Linked DNA regions of Homo sapiens. The protein of the gene in region 1 purifies or fractionates together with the protein of each later gene. This does not show direct contact. Each region holds a gene or a part of one and is shown in the gene's direction. Other genes may lie near its edges.

Region 1 (5,588 bases):
GATTTGAAGTCATATTAGGAAATATTTAGACAATGAAAATTATCAAGAGATAATTTACCTTTCAATTATGATAAATAGATGTGATTGGTTGCCATTTGTGTTCTTTTGCAGAACTCTGATAAGAAAAGTGTTCAATTTGTATTTAAGCAAACAGTGAACGACGTTTGCAATCAACTAAAAATTCGTCTATCGAATTAGGGCTGAAAATTACTGTTAAAGAGTGTTGCAGTATGTCTGGTGGCTCCCTTTTCAGGACTAGGGCTTTCTCATGGAGTACAGTATGTTAATATTTACCTATATAACTAATCTGTTAACGGTTTTTGAAAAACCTTTCAAATTATTTGAATAATCTTCATATTTTCATTTAACCTATATGACTCTAATTTTTTTTCTGAGGAAATCATTTGGTTTTTGAGTTGTTTTTTCTTAATGTAAGAAAAATTGTATTTTTTTTACAAGTATCTTCAAACTGAATCTTTTATGCACCAAAGTTGGTCTTGAAAAGGAAAATAAAATCACTTTCTTGCTTGGTAAGCAAGAAGCCATATCGATTTTTTTTAACTTACAGAAATGGAAATATGTGTAACTTGTTAGTATTGTATTAAACAAATGTTGCATAGAGATAATAGAACATTGCTTGTAAATAATTCAGCAGATTTGTAATATATTTTTATATTTTGAAATGTACTGTAGATGTTTTCTAGAGGCATGAAAGTTAAATGTATATATTATGGTAGAAATAATATTGAAGGATATTGTACTTCACTAGTGCTGCCAGAGGAATTGTTAATAAAAGCACCTTCTTTAACAATAAATGTCTTTCACAGACTTAAGGGACTATGTACTACTGTTAATATCTCTAAGAACAAAACACATTGAACATCCTTCCAGAAAGTCTTTGAGGGAGGACCTATACCCATAATAGAATTATGGCACTCATTTCTGACAGTGATCAAGAAATCAGTTATTTCCTTACTGTTGGAAGGACATTGTAAAGTATGTGGTTATATGCAGTGAAACTGCAGAAAATACTCCTGGTTGAGGAGTTTTCACTTTACTACAGTGATATAAAAACCAGCAGTTTTTACACTAAATTTTTTAAAGAAATATTAGACAAAAATATAGAATTAAAACCTTTGGTTCCAAAATGGGAAAGGTTCCACGATACATAAATCATTTCTCATTTGCTTTAAAAAATTTAAAAGTGTAAAAATTATGAGAGACTTTATTCGTTAACAATGGGGGTAAAGAGCTATATACATGAAAATGAGTCTTATAAAATTAAGTGAAGTGCAAATAAAAGCACTGCTACTATAAGACATTCTGGAATGGTTGTTTAATAAGGGTATTATCCATTTGATCTATAGCAATGTGATTTTATTTTTAAAAAGAAAAGCAGTGTGTTTTCTTTTTTTGTTGTTTTCTTTTGCTTAAGCACTTCATCAATTGCTTTATTCTGTATCTGCGAAGTAATCTGCAATCTCTTTTGTTCTTTTTAAAATTTGATTTGTTATAAAATTGCCAAATAGAAGTGTTTCAGATACATAGTTTGTACCTGTATTTTTATTTTATTGCCTCATGTTCTTGTAAGTCATTCTTAATTGACCAATGATTGTAGACCTTGCTTGAGTATTTTTTCTAATAAAACAAAGCAAATCACATTTAGCTTCAAATTGTAACAATTCAATTGAATTTTAAAATGACACCTGAAAAGATACATCTGATATTTTCTATATAGAGCACAGTAAATAAGTTTTTTCATTGTGTAGAAATACTTAGATGTCAAAACCAGATTTCGTGATCCTTGATTAACTTCTGAGTACTCAATCAATCATAATCCTTTTGCTGCTTATCTGATGTTGGTTTGATACTGTTAACACACCAAAAAGAATATGGAATTGAAATGAGCTAGCTTTATAACTTGTATGTATACATATATACACATAACATCCAATTATGACTGGGTAATAAGTGTGAAAATTTTAATTTGTGGTTTTCATTTATTAATGTCTGCCCATCTGTATTGTTGCTCCTACCTTCAAATATGACACCTGAAATAATAAGTCTGTTGTCCAGAATTTATGTATTGTTCAGCATCAAGCAAACTACAGCTCACAAGCATACCCATTTATATGTTGTCTATGCCTGCTTTCTCCTGCAGTGGCAGAATTGAGTGGTGAGACCTTAGGTCCTGCAAGCCCCCAATTTTTACTACAGGTTGGCAATCCCTAATCCAAAAATCTGACATAAAAAATGCTCCAAAGTTCAAAACTTTCTGAGTGCTGACATCATGCTGCAAGTGGAAAATTCCACGCCTGACCTCATGTGACTGGTCATAGTCAAAACAATTAAGACTTTGTTTCATGCACAAAATTATTAAAACTGTTGTATAAAATTACCTTCAGTCTATGTGTATAAGGTGTTTGTGAGATATAAATGAACTTTATGTTTAGTCTTGGATCGCATTTCTGAGTCTCATTATGTATATGCAGATACTCAAAAATCTGAAAAAAATCAAAAATCTGAAATACTTCTGGTCCCAAGCATTTCGGATAAGGGATACTCAGCCTGTCTCTGGTCCTTTAAGAAAAAGTTTTCGATTCCTTTGTCTAGTTGACAAAAAGTTTGGAAACATAAACTTAGACCACACAACTTGCATTTTAATATGACAATGTTGATCTTGGTAATAAGCCAGTACATTAAATTTTAGTGAAAGCTGTTTCATGTATTTTACAGTAAATACTGCCATATTAGGTACCTACAACAAATGGTGGTTTTTGGAAACTTTTACGGTGGGTTTTTAAAGTTATTAATAGTCCATCATTTCATCATTTGTGTTTCTGTATTTATTTTGCTAAGAACTAAATAAGATTTTGTACATCAGATTGTGTTTGAACCGTAAGGCACATCTGCTTTATCTAAAAGAATCTTAAGGTGGAAATAGTGTAAAATTTAAAATTTTTTATATTTCTAATAAACTTTTTATATATAAATGTTACCTAAAGTGGACACATGTTACTTCTGAATTTCACATGAAAGGAAATTAAAGATGGACAATAATTATCTCTCAATATTTTAAGATTTGTTTTACTAATTGAAAACAGTATGTCAGTAAATCTTTGGCCTTAGTGCTTTTTTCCCCCTTTTACACATTAATAAAATGTTTTAAATATGGTAATACTCTTAAAACGGTAGAATTTGCCACAGTTGTTTAAAGCATTTTTATTTTTTCTTTGAATTCTTAATTCATGGTGAACAGATGTTGGGTTCTTAAAATATAAAAATGAGAAAATATGTATTAAAAATACTTGATAGAGGGTTTTCTCTTTAATCACAACTTAAAAAAAGAAACCTTTAATACCTCTGCATAAGTTCTCTGAAAGAACTTAAATTCTTAGTTTATATGAAAACTGATATGTATGTCTGTGTAACAAAGCCTGTTGGGTACAGGTCTACAAGGAGATACTTTGTTTCTAAAAAAGGAGTTAAATCGTGTCACCTGAATTTTTTTTTTTTGAGATAAGTGGACATTTTGGGGATTTTGGTTAAAACATATTTCTCTATTCTAAAAATTACAGAATATGTATTCATAAAAGGGAAGAAATTGTTAGAAAATTTCCTGTGTACGTAGTTTGTTTTTAAATTAAAGAATCTTGTGACCTGGTGTAGGACATTTTGCATTTGTAACACTGCAGTTTTAATATATTTGCTGTTTTTTTTAAAATTAGAATATGTTTAAAATTTAATGGTTATGAGGCTCTGTAGCCTTAAAATGTTTTATAGTAGTAAAATGTATTATTTTCATCTTAAAAAAAACTAAATATTTACATTGCATAATTTATTTATTGAATCAAGTTTACGTGGTCTAACACATGGTTCTGTTAATCTGAAAATTGAAAAGGATTTGTAAGCAGGTTAGAGCAGGAATTGCAACCCAGATTTTTTTTTTTCTAGGTCAGAATTCTTTTCACTATACCAAACTGCTGCTCACAGTGTGAGAACATGAATGTACATTGTGATACCACTATAAAGTTGTGTCCAGTGTTTCTGCCACAGCCAGTCTAGCATGATCATTCATGGCACAAAATAGTCTGTAAAATTTGTTAAATGAGTATTATAGGTGAGTAATTTTTACAGTAAAATACTTTGGAGAATTAACAGTGATAAAACAGTAGTAGGGTTGAAGTGACCTGGCTTAAGCCACATTCTGTGATAGTGTCAGGTACCTTTTCATAAGAACCTTATATACGGATATAGTGGTTCATGCTTGTAATCCCAACTACTTGGGAGGGTAAGAAGGGAGGATTGCTTGAGGCCAAGAGTTCCAGGCTACAGTGAGCTATGATTGGACCACTGCATTCCAGTCTGGGTGACACAGCGAGACCCCACCTCTTTATTTTTCGCTACGGAGTCTTGCTCTCTTGCTGAGGCTGAAGTGCAGTGGTGTGATCTCAGCTCACTGCACCCTCTGCTTCCGGCTTCAAGTGGTTCTTGTGGCTCAGCCTCCCACGTAGCTGGGACTACAGGTGCGTGCCACCATGCCCAGCTAATTTTTGTATTTTTTAGTAGGGACGGGGTTTTGCCATGTTGGCCAGCCTGGGCTTGAAATCCTTACCGCAGGTGATTCTCCCACCTCTGCCTCCCAAAGTGCTGGCATTACAGGCATGAGCCACTGTGCCTGGCCCCCGCCTCTTTAAACAACAACAAAAGTTCTAATAAAAGGAACTGTGCTTCAGTTTGTTTAGACATTCTTAGTGTAAAGGGTTATTGATGTTATGTTTTTACATATTGGATGTAATATTTTGGCTTACTTGATTTTATTTAAAAATGTTCCTTTTTGTCCTGTTTTATGATGTAAATAACTTTTTTTTTTTTTTTTTTTTTTGAGACAGATTCTTACTCTGTCGCCCAGGCTGTAGTGCAGTGGCGGGATTGTAGCTCGCTGCAGCTTCAAAACGCCTTGGGCTCAAGTGACCCTGTCGCGTTGGCCTCCCGAGTAGCTAGGCCTCCAGGCATGCACCACCACGCTGGCTTTTTTAATATATTGCCCAGGCTGGTCTTCAACTCATGGTATTACAGGTGTGAGCCGAGCCACTGCACCTGGCCCAACATTTTTTTTTTAAAAAACACTATTTTGAAGGAGCTATGCAGTATTTGGTTTCCTGTTTTTTGAGATGGAATCTCTCTCTCTTGCTCAGGCTGGGGTGCAATGGCACAATCGCTGCTCACTGCAGCTGCTGCCTCCCGGGTTCAAGCGATTGTCTTGCCTCAGCCTCCTGAGTAGCTGGGATTACAGACACACACCACCACGCCCGGCTAATTTTTGTATTTTTAGTAGAGACTGTTTCACCATGTTGGCCAGGCTGGTCTGGAACTCCTGACCTTGTGATCCATCCACCTCAGCCTCCCAAAGTGCTGGGATTACAGGCATGAGCCACCATGCCTGGCCAGTTTCTTTCTCCCTTCCTCCATCTCTCCCTCCCTCCCTCCCTTCCCTCCCTCCCTCCCTCCCTCCCTCGTTCCGTCTTTCTCTCTCTCCTTCCTTCCTTTTTCTTTCTCTCTTTCTTCCTTTTTCTCTCTCTTTCTCT
Region 2 (8,543 bases), on another chromosome or scaffold:
AAAAGAAATGTGGGACTCTTTTTTTTTTTTTTAAGTTACAGCCCCAGTTTCCCTTTTCTGAATACTGTTTTAAAAAATTTTTTATTCAGATATTTTTTGTTTGTGATTCTGTGTATGTCTATTTTCATTTCATAGCTGGAGTTTTAATATCAGGTAGAAGACAGGGGCCTGGATGTCAGCAGAGACATCCGGGTACTTATCTTTTACTTCTTATCCCACCATGCCCTTCCCAACTCAAAGCTGAGCAGTTTGATGGCAGTCCCCACAGCTTGCAGAACTTGGTGCCCAGGCGGTTTTGCTGGAGGAAATACCTCCTAACCCATAGCAGATAGTGATCTTAGCCGCAGCAGAGAAGTGGTTGCGCTGGGTTGGGCAGTGGGTGGAGAAGGATGGCATAGAACGGATGCATTCTGTTCTCAAAATGATACTTGTTTTGATGGTGACAATTTACCAGTGAAACACACTGATTTCATATTCTCTGGGGTACTCTCCACCTCAGTGGGAGGGAGAGGATTGTTGGGGAATCTCTAGGGGACACTTCTTATTAGTATACCTGCTTTTTTTTTCATTTTTTAAATTTTTTTGAGACAGGATCTCAGCTCTGTTGCTCAGGCTGGAGAGAAGTGGCACAATTATGGCTCACTGCAGCCTCAACCTCCCTGGCTCAAGCCATTCATCCCCCTACATCCATCAAGCCTGGGACTACAGGCAGGTGTCACCACACATGGCTATTTTTTTTTTTAATTTTTTTGTGGAGACAGGATCTCCCTATGTTGCCCAGCCTGGTTTTGAACTCCTGGGCTCAGGTGATTCTCCTGCCTTGGCCTCCCAAAGTGCTAGGATTACAGGCATGAGCCACCATGCTTGACCACACCTGCTTTTTTGACTCGAAGGCATGAATGTTGGGAAGCACTCAGTTTTCTATGGACAAAACTTGTGTATTTGATTATTGGGAAGGGAGCTTCCTCTTATTTTGCCAAACATCCTTGAACACAAAAAATTTACTTCTTTGCTGTCCCTTGAGTCAACCACAAGCCCCAGTATTAGCTTATTTCCCTTCTAAGACTTACCTGTCTTCCCTTCCCAGGTCAGAATCGTTTCCCTGGCTGTCGCTGTAAGACCCAGTGCAATACCAAGCAATGTCCTTGCTATCTGGCAGTGCGAGAATGTGACCCTGACCTGTGTCTCACCTGTGGGGCCTCAGAGCACTGGGACTGCAAGGTGGTTTCCTGTAAAAACTGCAGCATCCAGCGTGGACTTAAGAAGGTGAGGCCTTTCCTCAGGACCCCACACCACATAAAATGGAGGGGGAAGGAAGGAACGGTCCCAAGCATTCTCTTTCCACTGGTTCTTTTGAGGCTTTATATGTGAAAGTGCTTGATAAATCCTAAAAGACACATATTTACTGAATTAATAAAGGCTTCAGTCCCAGTAGGGCTTAGAAAAATGGTTCCTGGCCAGGTGTGGTGGCTCATGCCTGTAATCCCAGCAGTTTGGGAGGCCGAGGCCAGCGGATCATGAGGTCAAGAGTTCGAGACCAGCCTGGGCAACATGGTGAAACCCTGTCTCTACTAAAAATATAAAAATTAGCCAGGCATGGTGGTGCATGCCTGTAATCCCAGCTACTCAGAAGGCTGAGGTAGGAGAATCGCTTGAACCTGGGAGGTGGAGGTTGCAGCAAGCCGAGATCGCACCACTGCACTCCAGCCTGGGACAGAGTGAGATTCCATCTCCAAAAAGAGAAAGAAAAGTGGTTCCTTGAACTGGCCAGACAAAAAGGAGCTGCGAGGTGTATGCACCTTTGGTGATGTCTATGTTTACCTCACACATTGCAGTGAATTCCTATAGACTAAGGCCCAGGAGGGCTCCATGGATAAAGGAAGAGATATCCTATTTCCGTTCGTCACCACCTCCCATTTTCTTTTCTCTCCCAAGCAGAAAAGAATGGGTTAGACCTTTTTCTGCTTTCAGATCCTCTTAACAGTTGCTGGTTCTTTCCACCCCACCCCCACCACACATGTGCACATCCAGCACACACCCCCTACTCATGCACACCCTGTAGTCTGAGACTTGGCCCCCTCTTCCCCAGCACCTGCTGCTGGCCCCCTCTGATGTGGCCGGATGGGGCACCTTCATAAAGGAGTCTGTGCAGAAGAACGAATTCATTTCTGAATACTGTGGTGAGGTGAGTGCTATAGTTTTGGCCCACATTCTTACTCGGGGGAGACTGATGAGAAACTCTGATTTTCTGTGGGCCAGGCTTCTTTGAATTAATCTCTAAATAACTCAGCTGTGTTCTCACGTGGCCTCTTGGGGAGATCCCACAGAACCGTTTGCAGTACTGAAACCACTGTTCAACTCTTTGGCAACTCCAGACACAAGAGATGAGGGGGGCTCTTTTCAGCCTTAAAACTGGTTGGCCTGGGTGGGAATTGGAACAGCATAACTTGAACTTGCTCTCTTGTGATTCTCATCATGATGCTCAGTAAGCACCCATGTGAGATACCACCCAGCCCTTTCTGGGGGCAGGGTACCATGCCCTGAGCAGGCAGCCTGATACTCCTATTTGTTATTTGTCTATCTCTCTAGCTCATCTCTCAGGATGAGGCTGATCGACGCGGAAAGGTCTATGACAAATACATGTCCAGCTTCCTCTTCAACCTCAATAATGGTATGAAGTCACTTTGTCTCATCCCAAGGTGGTCTTTTTTTTTTTTCTTTTTTTGAGACGGAGTCTTGCTCTGTTGCCCAGGCTAGGGTGCAATGGTGCGATCTTGGCTCACTGTAGCCTCTACCCTCTGCCTCCCGGGTTCAAGTGATTCTCCTGCCTCAGCCTCCCGAGTAGCTGGGACTACAAGCACCTGCCACCATGCCCGGCTAATATTTTTGTATTTTTAGTAGAGACTGGGTTTCACCATGTTGGCCAGGCTGGTATCGAACTCCTGGCCTCAAGTGATCCACCCGCCTCGGCCTCCCAAAGTGCTAGGATTACAGGAGTAAGCCACCGCACTTGGCCCCAAGGTGATCTTTCTACCAGATTGCCCTTGCTGTAGTCCAAGTTTAGATCAGCTCCGAATCTTCCAGCAGATGCATAGAGCAAGGGGGCAGGATCACACTTGGGGATCCCACAGGCCACAGTGCCCTTGCTTTGGAAGAACCTCCATTTCTGGGTTCTGTTTGTAATAGGAGTGCTGAGCGTCTTTACCTGAGAAATCTCCCTGCCCAGTAGATGAGAAGATCCATAATTCAAAGAGGGACCCAAAGGGAGTGCTCCCACACAAGGCTGAATTCTGAGGCTGCATGCTTTCCTCTGCTCCTGTTAGCACACTGGGCTTCAACATTCCCATCAGACTAAAGTGTTTCTGTTACCATTTAACTGATTTTAAATTCAAGCTGAGAAGCTGTGGAATTGCCTGCTGTGCTTATGGTTTTCCTTGATTTACTTTATACAGATTTTGTAGTGGATGCTACTCGGAAAGGAAACAAAATTCGATTTGCAAATCATTCAGTGAATCCCAACTGTTATGCCAAAGGTGAGTCCCAGTAACCTGGGAGGTGGGGTGGGGGATGGATGCCTCTTTACTGTGATTTCCATTCGTTGTTGAACATTTTCCTTAGCTGAGCTATTTTTTGTCCAAAGATAATCATGATTAATATCTGGTATCATTTTAGGCCCCTCTCAATCTTAGTTTTCTAATCTGCTTTTTTCAGCGAATACATTATAAACACTTTCCCACAAACATGATTTAACCAGCCTGAGCAACATAGTGAGACCCATCTCACAAAATAATAATAGGCTGGGTGTGGTGGCTTACGCCTGTAATCCCAGCACTTTGGGAGGCTGAGGCAGGTGGATCACTTGAGGCCAGGAGTTCAAGACCAGCCTAGCAAACATGGTGAAACCCCATCTCTACTAAAAATACAAAAATCAGCTGGGGGGCGTGGTGGTGTGCACCTGTAGTCCCAGCTACTCAGGTGGCTGAGGCACAAGAATCGCTTGAACCCTGGAGGCAGAGGTTGCAATGAGCCAAGATCATGCCACTGCACTCCAGCCTGGGCAACAGAGCAAGACTCTGTCTCAAAAAACAAAACAAAACAAAACAAAAAACCCCACTTATAATAATAATAAAGATAATTTTTCTGCCATAATAACAGATCTAAAAGCATAGAGGCAACTACCATATTGACTACTTTCTAATTCCATTTGATTCATGTTTTCACTGGGAATTTGGAGAAAATCAACCCAGAAGCCTACTGGTTATTGACTTGGAGTTGGGTAGGAACCTAGCCTCGGGTTTATCCTGCTTGCAGTGGTCATGGTGAATGGAGACCATCGGATTGGGATCTTTGCCAAGAGGGCAATTCAAGCTGGCGAAGAGCTCTTCTTTGATTACAGGTGAGGTGCCAGTAATGGTCCTTGGGATGTGGCCCAGGAATTGGAAAGAGTGGCTGTTGGAATAGATTTGGGGGCTCAGGGAGGGTAATGGAGATGGAGGAGAGAGTCTCCCGGTGAATAAGGCTGTGTCCCTTGTTCTGATATCTGGTGCCTTGCCTCAGAAGTGGGACCATTGTAAACAGCCCTTAAGGAGTGGGAGGGGAAGTGAAACGGGAGGGGACTCCGCCTTTTCAATCACAAAAGTCATGAGAGTAACCTGGTTCCTCTTCCCTGCTCTGGGACAGGTACAGCCAAGCTGATGCTCTCAAGTACGTGGGGATCGAGAGGGAGACCGACGTCCTTTAGCCCTCCCAGGCCCCACGGCAGCACTTATGGTAGCGGCACTGTCTTGGCTTTCGTGCTCACACCACTGCTGCTCGAGTCTCCTGCACTGTGTCTCCCACACTGAGAAACCCCCCAACCCACTCCCTCTGTAGTGAGGCCTCTGCCATGTCCAGAGGGCACAAAACTGTCTCAATGAGAGGGGAGACAGAGGCAGCTAGGGCTTGGTCTCCCAGGACAGAGAGTTACAGAAATGGGAGACTGTTTCTCTGGCCTCAGAAGAAGCGAGCACAGGCTGGGGTGGATGACTTATGCGTGATTTCGTGTCGGCTCCCCAGGCTGTGGCCTCAGGAATCAACTTAGGCAGTTCCCAACAAGCGCTAGCCTGTAATTGTAGCTTTCCACATCAAGAGTCCTTATGTTATTGGGATGCAGGCAAACCTCTGTGGTCCTAAGACCTGGAGAGGACAGGCTAAGTGAAGTGTGGTCCCTGGAGCCTACAAGTGGTCTGGGTTAGAGGCGAGCCTGGCAGGCAGCACAGACTGAACTCAGAGGTAGACAGGTCACCTTACTACCTCCTCCCTCGTGGCAGGGCTCAAACTGAAAGAGTGTGGGTTCTAAGTACAGGCATTCAAGGCTGGGGGAAGGAAAGCTACGCCATCCTTCCTTAGCCAGAGAGGGAGAACCAGCCAGATGATAGTAGTTAAACTGCTAAGCTTGGGCCCAGGAGGCTTTGAGAAAGCCTTCTCTGTGTACTCTGGAGATAGATGGAGAAGTGTTTTCAGATTCCTGGGAACAGACACCAGTGCTCCAGCTCCTCCAAAGTTCTGGCTTAGCAGCTGCAGGCAAGCATTATGCTGCTATTGAAGAAGCATTAGGGGTATGCCTGGCAGGTGTGAGCATCCTGGCTCGCTGGATTTGTGGGTGTTTTCAGGCCTTCCATTCCCCATAGAGGCAAGGCCCAATGGCCAGTGTTGCTTATCGCTTCAGGGTAGGTGGGCACAGGCTTGGACTAGAGAGGAGAAAGATTGGTGTAATCTGCTTTCCTGTCTGTAGTGCCTGCTGTTTGGAAAGGGTGAGTTAGAATATGTTCCAAGGTTGGTGAGGGGCTAAATTGCACGCGTTTAGGCTGGCACCCCGTGTGCAGGGCACACTGGCAGAGGGTATCTGAAGTGGGAGAAGAAGCAGGTAGACCACCTGTCCCAGGCTGTGGTGCCACCCTCTCTGGCATTCATGCAGAGCAAAGCACTTTAACCATTTCTTTTAAAAGGTCTATAGATTGGGGTAGAGTTTGGCCTAAGGTCTCTAGGGTCCCTGCCTAAATCCCACTCCTGAGGGAGGGGGAAGAAGAGAGGGTGGGAGATTCTCCTCCAGTCCTGTCTCATCTCCTGGGAGAGGCAGACGAGTGAGTTTCACACAGAAGAATTTCATGTGAATGGGGCCAGCAAGAGCTGCCCTGTGTCCATGGTGGGTGTGCCGGGCTGGCTGGGAACAAGGAGCAGTATGTTGAGTAGAAAGGGTGTGGGCGGGTATAGATTGGCCTGGGAGTGTTACAGTAGGGAGCAGGCTTCTCCCTTCTTTCTGGGACTCAGAGCCCCGCTTCTTCCCACTCCACTTGTTGTCCCATGAAGGAAGAAGTGGGGTTCCTCCTGACCCAGCTGCCTCTTACGGTTTGGTATGGGACATGCACACACACTCACATGCTCTCACTCACCACACTGGAGGGCACACACGTACCCCGCACCCAGCAACTCCTGACAGAAAGCTCCTCCCACCCAAATGGGCCAGGCCCCAGCATGATCCTGAAATCTGCATCCGCCGTGGTTTGTATTCATTGTGCATATCAGGGATACCCTCAAGCTGGACTGTGGGTTCCAAATTACTCATAGAGGAGAAAACCAGAGAAAGATGAAGAGGAGGAGTTAGGTCTATTTGAAATGCCAGGGGCTCGCTGTGAGGAATAGGTGAAAAAAAACTTTTCACCAGCCTTTGAGAGACTAGACTGACCCCACCCTTCCTTCAGTGAGCAGAATCACTGTGGTCAGTCTCCTGTCCCAGCTTCAGTTCATGAATACTCCTGTTCCTCCAGTTTCCCATCCTTTGTCCCTGCTGTCCCCCACTTTTAAAGATGGGTCTCAACCCCTCCCCACCACGTCATGATGGATGGGGCAAGGTGGTGGGGACTAGGGGAGCCTGGTATACATGCGGCTTCATTGCCAATAAATTTCATGCACTTTAAAGTCCTGTGGCTTGTGACCTCTTAATAAAGTGTTAGAATCCATTTTGGCAAGTTGTGTACTGTGTGCTTTGGGGCTGGAAGGATCCAGGGATGGGGTCCAGGAGCAGGTTGGGCCGAAGCATCAGCATTCTGATCCCCACTTACCCACTGAGATCTGGGAAAGGGGGAGATGGGGGTTCTGGCAAGAGCCAGTCAGTCAAGTCCCTGGAAGGTGATGCAAGGATTCTGAGAGCTCCTTCTAGAAATTCCTGAGCCCTCAGATTAGTTCCCTTAAAATCATCCCACTTATCCCCTAACCACGACGCCAGCTACCACACACAGACTGGGGCTCTGCCACTCTGCTTTATTGGAACGGCTCCGCGTCTGAGAGCACAGCAGGCTCAACCCTGCTTCAGAGTGGAGGCCGGACCAGGCTGGTGGGTGACCAGCAGGACTCACGACACTTCCAACACAGGAAAGGCAAACTACAGACTGTGGGCACAGCACAGCACAGGACAGCACAGCCAATTGAGCTTTTCTTTTATATATAAACAAATAATTTAAAAATTCGAATAATATATAGAGTTTCTCTAGAGAGACACTTTGCAACAAAAAATATATATAAAGAATATGACCTCCTGGGTAAATGAAGCAGCATCTCTGAGCGGAGGAAAGAGGGTTCCTCATGCACTGGAGGGGGCGAAGCCTTTGGGCAGGCACAAAGGCCATTGCATATCTTGGAAAAGGTTGGAGGAGTAGAGGGCTGGCTAGTCAGGGTATCTGCATTATTTTCTCTACGTTGCAGGTTTTTTATGGCTTTGGCTAAAGCAAGTGAAGCAGCGGAGGTACTAAGGTGCTAAACTGAGGCCTCTTGGTCTCTGTGTACAAAACAAAAGGAGGGGGGCAGGGGACAGCCATCAAGCCCTCTTGAGCCTCCAGCTGAGTGGAAGCAAATGGAAGATCTTCAGGGCAGGGGGGAGGCTGGGGGATAGGGTTTAGCAGCCTCCTCCCCCCATACCCTCTGCAGCCCTGCACTCCCACACATCTGTCCCTGCTGATAGTGTCTATTGGAAGGGAGGCAGTTAATCTCCCCTACACTCTGTTGTTAATCCCTGACAGCAGCTGGAACAGAGATGGCAGAAAGGACCTATGTCAACCCCATGAGGCTTCTCCTTTGGGGCAGATAAACAGCCAGGAGCCTGGGGAAACAGGGATGAGAAGGGCATTGGTTTAGGCAGTGAGGCTCGGCCACTCCCTTGGGTCCCATCTGTAGCTCTGCCCACCAAACTTGATGGGGGGGGGATGGGGGAATATCCTCTGGATGAGCAGAGCCAGCTAAGAGGAGCCAAATGTCCCTGATAGGATGGGGGAGAGGCAGGACTGGGGGAATGTCAGGAGCTGGAATTGGTCCCAGAAGCCCTTCTGACTCATTCAGACCTGGACTCCTCCAGGATCTGGGGTAGGTTCTGATCCCGGGGGCCAGGGGCTGGGGCTGGAGTTGGGGCTGGGGCTGGGGCTGAGGCTGGAGCTTGGTTGGGAGCTGCTGTAGGGGTGGGGACCTGGGCAGGGCCTGAAGTGGGTAGGGGAGGTTTGCTGCCAGGATGGTAC

The links.
Region 2: the proteins of AEBP2 (region 1) and EZH1 purify together in Homo sapiens (affinity purification with mass spectrometry; 3 studies listed by BioGRID and IntAct, with this or other methods). This does not show direct contact.

The regions. Positions count from the first base shown.
Region 1 is NC_000012.12:19,518,564-19,524,151, forward strand, and holds the end of AEBP2 (zinc finger protein AEBP2), read left to right. Parts: 3' UTR 1-111; coding exon of another isoform or gene 112-157; 3' UTR 158-3,664; downstream 3,665-5,588. UniProt on the Homo sapiens protein: Acts as an accessory subunit for the core Polycomb repressive complex 2 (PRC2), which mediates histone H3K27 (H3K27me3) trimethylation on chromatin leading to transcriptional repression of the affected target gene.
Region 2 is NC_000017.11:42,698,730-42,707,272, reverse strand, and holds the end of EZH1 (histone-lysine N-methyltransferase EZH1), read left to right. Parts: intron 1-1,087; coding exon 1,088-1,266; intron 1,267-2,089; coding exon 2,090-2,185; intron 2,186-2,589; coding exon 2,590-2,671; intron 2,672-3,452; coding exon 3,453-3,533; intron 3,534-4,311; coding exon 4,312-4,396; intron 4,397-4,680; coding exon 4,681-4,741; 3' UTR 4,742-6,998; downstream 6,999-8,543. Other genes in the region: CNTNAP1 (contactin-associated protein 1 precursor), read right to left, coding at 8,363-8,543.